2 separate regions of the Homo sapiens genome follow, and region 2 is linked to region 1. A link means that fine-mapping ties the variant in region 1 to the expression of a gene that starts in the linked region. Tissue or cell type: pancreas. Region 1 holds a variant in brackets; the other region holds the start of a gene. All regions are shown on one strand. Distances are from middle to middle.

Evidence for each region. PIP is the estimated chance that this variant, and not a neighbour inherited with it, causes the effect.
Region 2: it holds the start of ARHGAP33, and the variant in region 1 is fine-mapped to the expression of ARHGAP33 in pancreas (GTEx, PIP 0.98).

What each region holds. Positions count from the first base shown.
Region 1 is chr19:35,826,019-35,834,018 of GRCh38, reverse strand. NPHS1 (NPHS1 adhesion molecule, nephrin) reads left to right here. Exons shown (of 29, transcript NM_004646.4): 24 at 2,257-2,376; 25 at 2,519-2,543; 26 at 2,648-2,723; 27 at 2,873-2,966; 28 at 3,063-3,175; 29 at 7,374-8,000. The coding sequence ends at 7,505. Among named protein-coding and RNA genes, the nearest start is that of PRODH2, 17 kb to the right of the region's middle. The variant G/A (reference allele first, on the strand shown) is at 3,950.
Region 2 is chr19:35,770,874-35,778,873 of GRCh38, reverse strand. It overlaps ARHGAP33 (Rho GTPase activating protein 33), which reads right to left and starts at 3,310. Exons shown (of 21, transcript NM_001366178.1): 1 at 3,210-3,310; 2 at 1,132-1,229; 3 at 966-1,050; 4 at 514-594; 5 at 273-410. The coding sequence starts at 3,215. It overlaps PROSER3 (proline and serine rich 3), which reads right to left. Exons shown (of 11, transcript NM_001367856.1): 11 at 7,708-8,000. RefSeq lists enhancers at 1-851, 852-1,737, 3,759-3,818 and a silencer at 3,049-3,528.

The DNA.
Region 1 (8,000 bases):
ACGAAAAAGAATGGCTTGGCTGGGCACAGTGGCTCATGCCTATAATCCCGGAACTTTGGGAGGCTGAGGCAGGTAGATCACTTGAGCCCAGACGTTGGAGACAAACCTGGGCAACATGGTGAAACCCCATCTCTATAAAACAAAAACAAAAAAAATTAGCCAGGCATGGCAGTGCATGCCTGCAGTCCCAGCTACTCAGGAGGCTGATGCGGGAGGATTGATTGAGCCCAGGAGGTTGAGCCTTCAATGAGCCGAGCTCACGCCACTGCACTGCAGCCTGGGCAACAGAGTTGAGACCCTGTCTCAAGAAAAAAAAGAAAAAGTCTTGGTATATGAAATAAAAAATTCCAAGTGTGGCCACTTTCAGGTGCTCAAAAATCTCACCAGCGATCTGTTTCTCACCCTCTCTCAACTTTGCCTTCATCTGTGGTGGCTTCTTTCTGAGTTTCTTCAATCAGAGGGGCAGAGAAGCCCTCCTCCACCTCCATCTTCTTGACAGCTAGTAGAATTGTCCTAAATGTTTTGTTAAAAACACACGTTGGGTCAAATGCCTGTGTCTAAACAATCACTGTGGAGAGAGGAATGGAGACTCTTATTTTCCAGGCCGGGCCATGTGCCCACTGTGGAGTCCTGCCTGAACCCAAGACTGAGATTGGGGAGTGGCTGTTCTCCCCAGGGGAAAAAAGTGCTATTAGTAGAAGACAGGGGAGATTGCCCGCCCAACAGATGCCTACTTAGAGGGGTTCAGCCTTGTCCTCAGGGATATAGCAGCCAAGTCAGCCTGATATTGGCTGGGATGGAAGTTGGTGGAAAGAAGTCATTTGAGGCTGGGCACGGTGGCTCGCGCCTATAATGCCAGCACTTTGGGACGCCAAGGTGGGCAGACCACTTGAAGCCAGGAGTTCAAGAACAGCCTGTCCAACATGGCGAAACTCCGTCTCTATTAAAAATACAAAAAAAAAAAAAATTAGCCGGGTGTGGTGGCATGCGCCTGTAATCCCAGCTACTTGGGAGGCTGAGGGAGAAGAATCGCTTGAACCCTGCAGGTGGAGGTTGCAGTGAGCCAAGATCATGCCACTGCACTCCAGCCTGGGTGAAAGAGTGAGACTCTTTTTTTTTTTTTTTTTTTTTTGAGACAGGGTCTCATTCTGTCACCCAGGCTGGAGTGCAGTAGCGTGATCTCGGCTCACTGCAACCTCTGCCTCCCCAGTTCAAGTGATTCCCCTGCCTCAGCCTCCCAAGTAACTGGGACTACAGGTGCCTGCCACCACACCCAGCTAATTTTTTGTATTTTAGTAGAGACAGGGTTTTACCATATCGGCCAGGCTGGTTTTGAACTCCTGACCTTGTGATCCAACCCCTCAGCCTCCCAGAGTGCTGGGATTATAGGCGTGAGCCACCGTGCCCAGCCAACTCCGTCTTAATTAAAAAACAAAATAAAATAAAGAAGTCCTTGAGATGGGATTTTTTTTTCAGAGGCAGGGTCTTGCTCTGCTGCCCAGGCTGGAGTGCAGTGGTGCTATCATAGCTCACTGGAGCCTTGACTTACCAGGTTCAAGCAATCCTCTTGCTTCAGTGTCCCGAGTAGCTGGGACTATAGACATGCACCACCATGCTGCTAAATTTTTAATTTTTTTTGTAAAGAATCAGCCTCACTATGTTGCCTAGGCTGGTCTTGAGCTCCTAGGCTCAAGCGATTCTCCCACCTTGACCTCCCAACATGCTGGGATTACAGGCATGTGCTGCAGCGCCTGACCTTGAGATAGAATTTGAAAGGCAAACAGAAGTTTGCTTGAGAAGAAAGGACATTTGAGGACAGACACTTAACTATTCCAAAGCTCTGAGGTGTGAATTTGCTTCAGTGATTCTGGAAACAGCTGGTGGTTGATTTGTGTGGCTGGACAGTCCAGTACCAGGGTCTAAGTTTGGTGGGCATGGCTGGAGGCGTGGGAAGAGGCTGGACCACAGAAAGTCTTCAGTGCCCAGCTAACGAGCTGAAGCTCCCTCCTGAGTCCAGAGTTCCGTTCTGAGTTTGCAGAGTTCAAGCAAACGGAGGAAGTTTTGCTAATGGCTTGACTTAAGAAAGAAGCCACCTGCCCTTGGGTGGGCAGAAAGGGTGGGCACAGAGACCTCTGCCCATCTGTTTCTCTGACCCTGGGGGAGGGACTTGGTCAGGGCTACACTTTCTCGGGGAGACCCACCCCTGGCCTACAGCCTGTTGTCTGGGATTCACTGAGGGGTATCTTCCACCCCTAGGACCCTCGGGGCTGCCCCTGCTGCCTGTGCTGTTCGCTCTTGGGGGGCTTCTGCTCCTCTCCAATGCCTCCTGTGTCGGGGGGGTCCTCTGGCAGCGGAGACTCAGGCGTCTTGCTGAGGGTGAGGAGAGACCCTTCCCTGCCAGGGTGGAGACCCGAGGGTGATAGGGAACCCTGTGGTTGCTGCATACTGAAGGTCTTCCTGGGGCCGGGGTGGGGGGCTTGCATAGGGTCACTGAGCCCTTTATTCCTGTTTCCTTCAGGCATCTCAGAGAAGACAGAGGCAGGGTAAGTGGGGATATTTTTCTGTAAAGAAGGCTCTGAGGGAGGTTTGGGGGAGACTGGTGGCGGGGGGCAGCACTCAACTTCCCCCCACACCTTCATCCTGGAAGGTCGGAAGAGGACCGAGTCAGGAACGAATATGAGGAGAGCCAGTGGACAGGAGAGCGGGACACTCAGAGCTCCACGGTAAGTGGGGGTGGCCCTGGTGACCCCACAATCAGGGCACCGACGGCGACTGAAGCCCTGCCGTTAGCATCAGGTTGATCATTGCCCTTCCGGGCACAGTGGGGTCAGAGGATGGAAAGGGCTTTGTTTGTTTTGCGTGTGGGGAACAGGTCAGCACAACAGAGGCAGAGCCGTATTACCGCTCCCTGAGGGACTTCAGCCCCCAGCTGCCCCCGACGCAGGAGGAGGTGTCTTATTCCCGAGGTGAGTTAGGACCATGTCAGGATTCCCTCACTCAGAGGTACCCCCGACGCCTGGACTGGGTGCCTTGATCGTGTCTCCCTTCCACTCCAACTCCAGGTTTCACAGGTGAAGATGAGGATATGGCCTTCCCTGGGCACTTGTATGATGAGGTAGAAAGAACGTACCCCCCGTCTGGAGCCTGGGGACCCCTCTACGATGAAGTGCAGATGGTGAGAAGCTTTGCATCAGCAACCATCCTTCCTGGCTAGTGCTGGGAGCCTACCTCCTATTGCTTGTATTAGTTAGGGCCAGCTAGCTGCTGTAACAAAGAGGCCTGACCATGATCCAGTGGCTTAAAGACAGTCGGCTGGGCATGATGGTCCATGCCTGTAATCCCAACACTTTGGGAGGCCAAGGCAGGAGGATCGCTTGAGCCCATAAGTTTGAGACGAGCCTGGGCAATATAGTGACTTGTCTCTACAAAACATTTTTTAAAATGAGCCAGGCATGGAGGTGTGCACCTGTAGTCTCAGCTACTCAGGAGGCTGAGCCAGGAGGATCCCTTGAGCTCAGGAGTTGGAGGCTGCGGTGAGCCATGATGGTGCCACTGCACTCCAGCTTGGGCAACAGAGCAAGACCCTGTCTCTGAAAAAAAGAAGGCAGTCTATTTCTTTTTCAGTCAGACGTGAGTGGCCCTGCTCAAGTCAACCGAGTCTACATGAATGAGCCAGTTCACTGGGGGTTCAACCCATGGGAAAAGGTGAAAGAATGTGGAGGAGGCACAACCCTGCCTTGTGGCCCAGGCCCAGAAATGGTGCACACCACTCTGCTCTCACTCCCCTGGTGGGAAGAGAGTCACATGGTCACATCTGACGGCAAAGGAGGCTGTGAAATGTGGTCTAGCTTAGCAGTGATGTGCCTTGCTGCAATTCTGCTACTGTGGAAGGAAGTAGACATGAATTTTTAAAGATAATTAGCCATATCTACTCCACTGGTTAAAGAGA[G/A]AGAAAGAGAGAATTTGGGGGCCCATTCAACTGAAAAATCAAGGCATACAATTGTCATCAGGCCCAGCTGGGCCCAGAATTTCTTCCCTAAAAATGTTTTTATGGCTAGGCATGGTCACGGCTCATATCTCTAATCTCAGCAGGCTGAGGTAGGTGGATTGCTTGAGCCCAGGTATTGGAGACCAGCCTGGGCAACACAATAATACCCCATCTTTAAAAAAAAAAAAGTTAAGCCGAGCATGGTGGCTCACACCAGTAATCCCAGCACTCTGAGAGGCTGAGGTGGGTGGATTACCTGAGGTCAAGAGTTCGAGACCAGCCTGGCCAACATGGTGAAACCCCATTTCTACAAAAAATGCAAAAATTATCTGGATGTGGTGGCACACACTTGTAATCCCGGCTACTTGGGAGGCTGATGCAGGAGAATCGCTTGAACCCAGGAGGCAGAGGTTGCAGTGAGCCGAGATCATGCCACTGCACTCCAGCCTGGGCAACAGAGCAAGACTCTGTCTCAAAAAAAAAAAAAGTTTAAAAAATTAACTGGGCATGGTGGTGCATGCCTGTGGTCTCAGCTACTCAGGAGGCTGAGGTAGGAGGAATGCCTGAGCCAGGGAAGTTGAGGCTGCCATGAGCCCTGATTGTGCCACTGCATTCCAGCCTGAGAGACTGTTTCAAAAAAGAAAGGGAAAAAATATTCCCAGAAAATCTAGATTTGTATCCTACGAGATTAGAAATCTTCAAAGAAAGAGTATACCTGTTTTCCAGTGGCCCCAAATGCCCAATGCTGACACTTAATTGGTCTAGCTTGGGTCACATCCTCATCACTGAACACATCCCTGAGTCAGGGGATGGAATATGCTAACAGGAGAGGCCTGGGCCAGTTCACCATGGGATCAGGGAGTAGGGGCCAGCCCCACTCAGGTCACTGGGCTGAGAGTAGGAGAGGGACAGAGAGCTCACAGGGAAATGAGGATGGTGGCTGTACAGGCAAAAACAACAGACAGGCACTTTGACCACCAGCCAATCCCCACCCATTGCTGCACAGTTAGGGAGATGGGACAGAACCCCTGATTTCCTGTGTGGCCTTGGCTGATGCTCTGGCACCTCCTGGGCCAAGGATTTCCTTCTGTCTCTGTGAACGACCTCCGATACCGGGACTGTTGTCAGATCCTAGCTCCTCACCAGCATGGCGCAAAGCGCTGTCCATGGTGCTGGACCATATGCACTCTCTAAAGCGTAGATGGAGGCTGCACGCTTTTTCCGAACAGGGCCGGATAGTAGTAAATGCTTTGGGCTGTGTGGGACATACGGTCTTCCTCAAACTCTACACAAACTCTGCCACCGTAAAGTAAAAGCAGCCATAGACGATGCATAAATGAATGAGTGTGGCTATGTTCCTACAAAACTTAATTTTTGGACACTGTAATTTGAACTTCATGTAATTTTTCTATGTCACAAATGTTATCTTTTTTCATTTTTTCCCAACAATTAAAAAATGAAAAACCAGGCCGGGCACGGTGGCTCATGCCTATAATCCCAGCATTTTGGGAGGCCAAGGCGGGCGGATCACAAGGTCAGAAGTTTGAGACCAGCCTGACCAACATGGTGAAACCCCGTCTCTACTAAAAATACAAAAAGTTAGCCGGGTGTGGTGGCTGGCGCCTGTAGTCCCACCTACTCGGGAGGCTAGGCAGGAGAATCGCTTAAACCCGGGAGGCGGAGGTTGCAGTGAGCCAAGATTGCGCCACTGCACTCCAGCCTGGGCAACAAACCAAGACTCCGTCTCAAAAAAAAAGAAAAAGAAAAAGAAAAAAATAAAAACCATTCTTAGCTCTTGGGCAGTATAAAAAAGCAGGTGGCAGGCCATATTTGGAGCATGGGCCAATCTGCTCTAAAGTTTGCTGAACTAAAATAATCATTTTCTCCCAGCCCTAGAACAAAATACATCCCCAGTTAGGGCTACCATTCATGTTCTTTTTGTTGTTGTTGTTTGTTTGGTTTTGCTTTGTTTTGTTTTTCTATTATGATTAGGGAACTGTTTTGGAAATTCATAGGACAATATAATCATAACTTACATTCCACAGTTGCCATACCTGATAACATGGACTTTTAAAGTTTTCATTTTTAAAAATTTTATTTATTTATTTATTTTTGAGATGGAGGCTTGCTCTGTAACCCAGGCTGGAGTGCAGTAGCACAATCTCAGCTCACTGCAACCTCCACCTCCCAGGTTCAAGCGATTCTCCTGCCTCAGCCTCCCAAGTAGCTGGGATTACAGGCATGCACCATCATGCCCGGCTAATTTTTGTATTTTTAGTAGAGACAGGGTTTTGCCCATTGCCCAGGCTGGTCTCGAATCCTGATCTCAAGTGATCCACCTGCCTTGGCCTCCCAAAATGCTAGGATTACAGGCATGAGTCACCATGCTTGGCCTAAAGGTTTTATATTTCTGACATTTACATTATTTTTCTAACATGAAATCATTGGGTATCTTGGGCTTGCTTCAAAATAATCCAGTTAGTCGGGGAGGGGAACAAGATAGAAATACAGAGAAATCAATTGACCAAGGGTTGCTACTGGTTTTTTCTTTTTTCTTTTTTTCTTTTTTTGAGATAGTCTCAGTCTGTCACCCAGGCGGGAGTGCAGTGGCATGATCATGGCTTACTGCAGCCTTGACCTCCGGGGCTCAAGCGATCCTCTTACCTCAGCCTCCTGAGTATCTAGGACTATAGGCGCTCACCACCACACCTAGCTAATTTCTTTAAAAATATTTTTTATAGGCTCGGTGCAGTGGCTCATAATCCCAGTGACTTATAATCCCAGCACTTTGGGAGGCTGAGACGGGTGGATCGATTGAACTCAGGAGTTCAAGACCAGCCTGGGCCACAATGGAAACCTCGTCTTTAAAAAAAAAAAAAATTCAAAAGTTAGCTGGGTGTGGTGATGCATGCCTGTAGTCCCAGCTACTTGGGAGGCTGAAGTGGGAGGATGGATTGAGCCCAGAAGGTGGAGGTTGCAGGGAGCTAAGATCGTGCCATTGCACTCCAGCCTGGGTGACAGAGCCAGACCCTGTCTAAGAAAAATAAAATTATTTTTTGTAGATACAGGATCTCACTATGTTGCCCAGGCTGGTCTCGAACTCCTGGTCTCAAGCAATCCTCCTGCTTTGGCATCCCAAAGTGCTGGAATTATAGGCATGAGCTACCGTGCCCAGCCTGATATTGTTGAAGTTAGGTGATAAGCACATGGGGTTCATCATAAGCATTCATTATAATCACACTCCTTTTTTGTATATGTTGGGATTTTAGTAAAAGCTAAAACACTTTTTTCTGGGAAGTTAAGCAGGGGCATGTATCCCCCAGATCTTCAATGAAGACCTACAGGGCATCTCTCCATGGTTCTAACTCCACTTTTTGCCTGTCAGGGACCCTGGGACCTCCACTGGCCTGAAGACACATATCAGGATCCAAGAGGAATCTATGACCAGGTGGCCGGAGACTTGGACACTCTGGAACCCGATTCTCTGCCCTTCGAGCTGAGGGGACATCTGGTGTAAGAGCCCTCTCAACCCCATTGTCCTGCACCTGCAGGAATTTACACTCCACTGGTCTCTCTCATTACAGCCTGGGCCGAGCTGGTTAGGTGAGCTCCATAAAACCCAAAGGGACTTGGTGTCAGGAGAGGACATGGAGGGGGCTGAGTGACAGAGATGGTTCAGCTGGTACCAGAGTAGAAACAAGGTGCATCCTGGGGTTGGCTTTAGAAACTAAACTTCTCCAAAAGGACAGGGCAGATTGTAAACGTCGTCTCAAAAATGAAATGCTGCCGGGTGCGGTGACTCACGCCTATAATCCCAGCACTTTGGGAGGCTGAGGCGGGTGGATCACCTGAGGTCAGGAGTTCGAGACCAGCCTGGCCAACATGGTAAAACTCCATTTCTACTAAAAATATAAAAAATTAGCCAGGAGTAGTGGCGCATGCCTGTAGTCCCAGCTACTTGGGAGGCTGATGCATGAGAATTGCTTGAACCCAGGAGGCGGAGGTTGCAGTG
Region 2 (8,000 bases), 55 kb after region 1:
GCAGGCTGGGCCAAGCTCTTGAGTACCCTGGTTGGCATGACCATGGTGACCCTCCCATGGGACCCCCTGGAACTCCCCATGATCCTAAAACTTAGCAAAGCTAAATGTAGCAGAAGCCTACTACGTTTCTAAGGCTTCTCCATTCATTCAGATTGGTTGGGACTTGGGCCATACCAGTATTTAAATATTTCTCTATCCCGCTGCCTTGATGATTTCACACTGTGGATGAGGACACACTCATGAGGCAGGGGCTGAGACAACAAGCAGGTTACCTGGGCAGCCCTGGCACCCTCGGGGGGCGGGGGAAGCTCCGGAAGGCAGGAGAACCTCCGGTCAAATATGCACCGGTGGAGGTGGGCATCCAGGGAACGAAAGTCATCGTAACTCCGGAGAACCGGCCAGGAACGGCCCTGTGGGAGCAGAGGGACAGAAGGGAGCAGGGGCCCCATGACACCGAGCTGAGGACTACAGTGGCCATTCTCTCAGGCTAGATGAGAGGCGGGATGGCCTCACCTGACAGGTCACCTGCACCCCGAACACCAGCTCATTCTCTCCAGAGAGGCTGGGCCCTTCACGGTCTGGAGACAGCAGGAGCTGCAGAGGGAAAGCAAGGCCCAGGTGGACTTTTGTCCCAGTCCTGACCTCCTGGGGATGGCACTATCTAGGGACGGGTTTGTGACTCCCTTCTGGACCTCCCCGAGGACAGGGCCTGGTGATGTCCTGGTCCCTGACATAGAGCAGATACCTAACAAAAGTTGTTGTTGAATGAATAAAAGAACAAATGGATGAATGAATGAGCAGCTCTCCCCATCTGCTGTGGCTCCTGCAACTTTTGCTACTGACTGCTCAGACGCGTGCAGCAGCCAGTCACAGGGATAAGTTTCAGAAGCAAAGCACCTGATATCGTTGCAAGGTTGGGTAGGATATTGTCTTCCCTCCTGGGTGCAAATGCAAAGCCCCCATACCTGAATGTGGCCAAAGTCAACGTTCTCGTAGTGGAAATGGGCGCAGTCAGCCAGCCGCGGGAAGGGGCCTCGAGGAGCTGAGAGCCTGGGAGACAGGGGATGCGTCACCAGCAGCTCCTTGAGTCTCCCCAGCTCCTAGCTGAGCCCTTTCCTCCCTCACCCTCACCTCTTCCCAGGCTTCCCCTTCACACTGGGCCCCCCAGCAGTGGGTAGAGGCTGCACCGAGCCCTCCCCTGGGCCATCCAGGCTGTCAGTGCTGCGTGCCTGTAGAGCAGAAAGAATCAGAGGCCCCCAGAGATGGGAGCAAAGAGACAACGAGAGCATTGTTATCTGGCAGCGCGGGTCCAGAGCCCCGGGCGCTCCACACACCGCCCTGAGCATGAAGCAGGATGGCAGGTCGGGGGAGGTGAGGGCTGGGCTGAGGACAGGACTGCTTCTTCGTGTGTGGTCTGGGGTGGGGGACTGGAGAAGCAGGGGCCAGACGTGAGGCGGGGCAACAGGATGGAGAGCATGCTGGTCCCATCTCTCCCTGCTGAAAACCCTTCCGTAGCCCCTGCAGAGTACAGTGATCTCCTACCACTGTCTAGACAATCACAACTCCCATCTCATCAGCCTTCCTGCTTCCAGCCTCTCCCCTCCTGCCAGCTTTTCCGCAATAGCCTGGATCGTTTTCAGAAAACACAAATCTGGCTCTATTTCTCCATAGATCCTGGGCCTTCAATGACTCCCTGTTGTCTTCAAGACGAAGTCTGAATTCTCTGGTCTGATAATCGAGACTTCCCTGAGCTGATTTCTGTTTACCTCTCCAGTCCCATCTCTTCCCATTGCCCCCACTCTCAGAGCTCTTGAACTTCTAAGAGTCCAAAAAAAGCACCCTCTTCTCATTTCCTTCTAGGCCTTTGCAAAGGCTGTTCCCTCAGCCTGGAACACTCGCCCCACCTTTCCCTGGGTACATTCATCCTCACTCCCACCCCTCAGGTCCCAACTCACATGTGCCCTCCTCCAGGAAGTTCTCCCTGACCCTTCAGGCTGCACCTGGCATCTCCTCTGGACTCTCTCCATCCCCTGAGGTTCCCCCATCCCAGGTTCCATGCCTTGACCAGAGCTTCTCCCTTCACAGCTCTGATCACTCTGAGATGGCACTGGTGGTGACAAGTTCATCTCTCTCATTGGACTATGACCGGCCTCCCAGAAGGAGGGCCCCAGACTGAGCTCCCCAGCATAGAGCTGGGCATTGAGTTGGTGTTCAGACATGATTGTTCCTGATTCTTTTCTGGGTCCCCAGTGCCAGCCCAGTCGCGCGCAGCAGGGACTGGGTAAAATCTGATGAATAAATTAACCAGCTGCCAGACAGATTCACTGGGCTGTAGCGTCTCCCTGCTCCATGTCCCTGCAACCCCCAGTCACCCTCAGGGTCTCACCCTCAGGGTCTGTCCCCCTCCAGCCCATAAGGTTCCCCAAGGCAGGATGGGAGCTGACTCTCTCTGTGCCTGGAGCGTGGGGCCTGCACAGAGGCGGTCTCAGTGAATGTCTGCTAAGTGAGGGAATGAATGGATGAATGAGCGGGAGCAGCATGGTGGGAGAGGGAAATGGTGGGGGAGGGGGATGAGGACAAGGAGATGGAGCAGACCCGAGGATCAAGGGAGGTACAGTGCTGGCCTGTTGGGGTGGAGTAAGGAAGGAGTGGCTGGAGAGACGAGGCAAAGGCTCAGACTGATGCGGGGCGGGGGGGATTGAGAGGAACTGGGATAGGGTGAAAATGAGGGAGAAGGAGAAGAAAAGGGTCAGGCTGGGGATGGAGCGGGTGGGGGGTGGGGCTCGGGAATGAGAAAGGGGCTGTGGGGAGGAGGAGGGGGCTCCGCCGGGGAGGGCTGAGGGCTGGCAGAAGGATGCCGAGGAAGGTGCTGGGATGGGAGCTGGGGAAGGACCCAGGAGCCTCAGGAGGCCCCTGCAGGGGCCACTTGGGTGGCGCGGGTCCCTTCCTGGACTAGCCCCGCCTCCTCCCAGCCCAGGCCCTAGGTCCCTGTCACCCCATCCAGGGCGTGGAAGACGGGGATGCGCGCTTAGGGGGCGGGGTCGAGGTACGGGCTGGGACCCGGGATGGGGCCGCAGGACGGGAGGGACCACGGCTGAAGCACAGGCCGCGGGATCGGGCGGGGCCGGGGGCGGGGCGCGCGGGGCGGGGCTGCGCACGGACAGACTGACATCCGGACGGACAGGCTGACGGCCGCGTGGGACCCTTACCACCATGGTCGCGTAGCCTCCTCAGGCCCCGGCCGCGCTCGACCCCTCGCTCGCCGTTCTCGTCGCCGCTGCCGCCGCCATGGCGACACAAAGGGGAGGGCGCGAGCCGCGCGCGGGCGGCTGCAGACCCCGCCCCTAACGGCTGCCCGTGGCTCCGGCGCGCGCCCCACGGGGGCGGGGGGCAGCGGGAACGCGGCGCTGCTTCTCATTGGCTCCGCCCTTGGCCTTAGGCCGATGCCCCGCCCACCCGGAGGCTTCTCATTGGTTTCACCTTGGGCTCCGCCCCGGCTCTGTGTCCTCGGTCCCGCCCCTCGAAGTTTGACAGCGCCACGCCCATGACTGCTTTTCATTGGCTGTCATCGCCCTCCTGAGACAAGCCCCCAGGTTCTTTATGCTTTGCTTCCGACACTTCCAACACCAAGCAATGGACCCTACCTTTCGTCCACTCCCAGTGTCCATTCTTCTGACTTTTTTATTTTTATTTCTTTAAGAGACAGGGTCTCACTCTGTCGCCCAGGCTGGAGCGCAGTCCTGCAATCGTGGCTTACTGCAGCCTCAACCTCCTGGGCTCAAGCGATACCTCCCATGTAGCTGGGACTACAGGCGTGCGCTACCACGCCTGGCTAATTTTTTTTAGACATGGGGGTCTCACTATGTTACCCAGGATGGTCTTGATCTCTGGGGCTCAAGAGATACTCCCTCCTCAGCCTCCTTTCAAAGCGCTGGGATGACAGGCGTGAGCCACCACGCCAGCCAGCCCCTGATAGTCTTAATTGGATTCTCCCACGGCCTCAGAGCAGTGCCCAGTTCCTTAAGCAGCTTTTCAAAGTCCCAGTCCCAAGTCTCACCTTTTCAGTCCTGATCCCGACCCCGCTCACATAATGCCGAGGACGCTCCGCCCATGGACGTTTCTCGTTGCCTCATATACCTTGCCTAGGACGTAACCCGAGGCTTTCTGCGATTTGGCCTCCCCTGCCCACTGGACATTTTCTTGTTTCCCCTTCTACTGCTTATTACGGGCCAATCTCCAGCCTTGATTTTTTTTTTCTAGGAAAATGCTTAGGGGGAAATGCCAGATCATGCTTATGCCCCCCATAAAGCCATTCCCAATGGAGCCTGCTAATACTGAGCATGCCCAGATAACACTGTAATAACGCCCTTCACAGGAGGGTCTCTCCTTAGTCATGCCCTCAACAAATTCTCATCTCAGAGGGTCTTGGTCTGTTCATTCATTCATTCATTCATTCATTCACTCAAACTCTAATCAATTTGTACATACATCAACAACCAAACCAGGAGAAAATATACCCTGCCCACATTGGAGCTCAAAAGCTACTGGGAGAAGACAATGAACAAAATTAACATTAAACAAAATATAGAATATTAGGCCAGGCGTGGTGGCTCACGCCTGTAATCCCAACACTTTGGGAGGCCGAGGCGGGCAGATCACTTGAGGTCAGGAGTTCGACACCAGCATGGCCAGCATGGAGAAACCCCGTCTCTACTAAAAATACAAAAATTAGCCAGGTGTGGCGGCGGGCGTGCCTGTAATCCCAGCTACCTGGGAGGCTGAGGCAAGACAATGGGTTGAACCCAGGTGGCAGAGTTTGCTGTGAGCCGAGATCGCGCCACTGCACTCCAGCTTAGGTGTTGAAGTGAGACTCTGTCTCAAAAAAAAAAAAAAAAAAAAAAAAAAAAAGCTGGGGACAGTGGCTCACGCCTGTAACCCCAGCACTTTGGGAGGCCGAGGCGGGAGGATCACAAGGTCAGGAGTTCGAGACCAGCCTGGCCAATATGCTGAAACCCCGTCTCTACTAAAAATACAAATATTAAAATTAGCCAGGTGTGGTGGCGTGTGCCTGTAATCCCAGCTACTCAGGAGCCTGAGACAGGAGAATTGCTTGAACCCAGGAGGCGGAGGTTGCAGTCAGCCGAGATTTTGCCACTGCACTCCAGCCTGGGAGACAGAGCAAGACTCTGTCTGAAAAAAAAAAAAAATATTAGAAGGTGATTCATTCTATGGAGAATAATTAAGCAAGGGCTGGTGAAAGGGAGTGCTGAGGGAGAGGTGAATGTGCAGTTACTTATGTACTAAATTTGCTGACCTCACTCTCATCACAGGGATTTCCCACACGATATTCCTTCTGTCTAGTGTTTCCCCATCAACCCCTGCAGTGATTTTTTTTTTTATTTTTTAATTTTTCTGGGTACATAACAGGTATATTTAGGTATATATATTGAGGGGGCACATGAGATGTTTTGATACAGGCATGCAATGTGTAATAATCACATCATGGAGAATGGGGTCCTGCAGTGATTTTAAAACAGCTGCAAATTCTCTGACACTCTTCTTATCAAGACGCGGACTCTATGATTGCTTTCTATGAATCTGGGTGGGACTAGGATAGCTTCAACCAATAGAAAACAGTGGAAGTGACACGGTGATTTCTAAGGCTATGTGATGAAAGGCAATGCAGCTTCTTGACCAATGTTCTCGTCCACTGGAATGAGCTGTAGAACCATGGTGCATCATATGCGAAGTGTGACTATGCTGAAGCAGACATGCTTTGAGGAAGCCCAGGCCAATGGAGCTATGTATAGGCATTAGTCAATAGTCCCAGTCAGACTGGGAGAAGACCACGGAAGAAGTTCTGGAGGATTCTACTCCACAGCCATCAAGTCTATCAAGTCACCTTTGAGTCTTTCCAGGTGAATCCCCAGACATCATGGAGGAGACAAAAATTGTCCCCATATGAGCCCTGTCCAAACCTCTGACTCTCAGAATCCATGAGCATAATAAAATAATTGTTTTATGCCACTAAGTTTTGGGAGCGGTTATCCAACTAGAGTAATTAGGACAGCCCTTTGTTAACTAGATAATTTCTACCTGTCTCAGCTTAAGTGTAACTTCCTCAGGAATGCTTCTAGACCCCACCCGTGACCCAGCTAGATCAGGTTCTGCTACTATAGTATCTTTTATTTCTCCTTATATCTAAACAGCTATTTTTCTTGTCAATTACATTTTTTTGTTAGTTTGTTTGTTTTTGAGATGGAGTCTCACTCTGTTGCCCAGGCTGAAGTGCAGTGGCACCATCTCAACTCACTGCAGCCTCCGCCTCCCATGTTCAAGCAATTCTCCTGCCTCAGCCTCCTGAGCACCTGGGACTACAGGCACCCGCCACCAGGCCCAGCTAATTTTTAGTGGAGACAGAGTTTCACTATATTGCCCAGGCTGGTCTCTAACTCGTGACCTCAAGTGATCTGCTCGCCTTGGCCTCCCAAAGTGCTGAGATTACAGGCCTGTGCCACTGTGCCCACTCTGATTTCATTTAAATGTATGGTTTGCTTAGAAAGGTTAGAAACAGGCCGGGTGCGGTGCCTCACACCTGTAATCCCAGCACTTTGGGAGGCCGGGGCAGGTGGATCATGAGGTCAGGAGTTCGAGACCAGCCAGACCAACATGGTGAAACCCTGTCTCTACTAAAAACACACACACACACACAAATTAGCCAGGTGAGGTGGCATGCACCTATAATCTCAACTACTCGGAAAGCTGAGGAAGGAGAATCACTTGAACCTGGAAGGCAGAGGTTACAGTGAGCCGAGGTTGCACCACTACACTCCAGCCTGGGTGACAGAGCAAGACTCCATCTCAAAAAAAAAAAAAAAAAAAAAGAAAGAAAGAAAGGTTGAAAACAAATATTATATTTACCATGTGACATACAGAAGTTACTAGAAATCCATCTTATCCCTCCATTTTGTAAATGCAGATATCAAAACAACCCCAATCATATATTCTCCATCATTTTATTATGAAAAGTTTCTTTTCTGAGACGGAGTCTCGCTCTGTCACCCAGGCTGGAGTGCAGTGGCGCAATCTCGGCTCACTGCAAGCTCTGCCTCCCAGGTTCAAGTGATTCTCCTGCCTCAGCCTTCCGAGTAGCTGGGGCTACAGGCGCCCGCCACCACGCCCGGCTAATTTTTTGTATTTTTAGTAGAGACGGGGTTTCACCGTGTTAGCCAGGATGGTCTCGATCTCCTGACCTCGTGATCCGCCCGCCTTGGCCTCCCAAAGTGCTGGGATTACAGGCATGAGTCACCGCGCCCGGCCATGAAAAGTTTCTAAATTACAGCAAAGTTGAAAAATTTTACAGTGGACACCCGCATATCCGCCACTTAGATCCTACCATGAACACTTTGCTGTATTTGCTTTATCTCACATCTACCTATTACACTATTTATCCATCAATCCAACTCATCTCTGGATGCATTTCAAAATAAATTGTCGACATTGGTTTATTGTTCCCTAAATATTTCAGTGTACATACTTTTTTTTTTCTTTTCTTTTTTTTAAAGACAGGGTCTAGCTCTGTAGCCCAGGCTGGAGTGCAGTGGCATGATCTTAGTTCACTACAATACAGCCTTGAACTCCTGGGCTCAAGTAAACCTCCTGCCTCAGCGCCCCTCCCCGCCCCTAGTAATGGGACTGCAAATCGTGTGCCACCACATCTGGCTATTTATTTACTTATTTATTTTTGTAGAGACAGGTCTTGCTGTGTTGCCCAGGGTAGTCTCAAACTCCTGGCCTCAAGTGATCCTCCCGCCTTGGCCTCCCAAAGAAGTCAGATTACAGGCGTATCTTTAACTGGCGTTCAATATTTTCTTTTGAGGTAAACTTTACATACAATGAAATTCACACACTTCACTAAGTTTCATAAGTGCATACACCTGTGTAACCCAAACCCCTCCCCAGCATGGCAACTAGTTTTTTTTTTTAATGTAGCCTCTAAA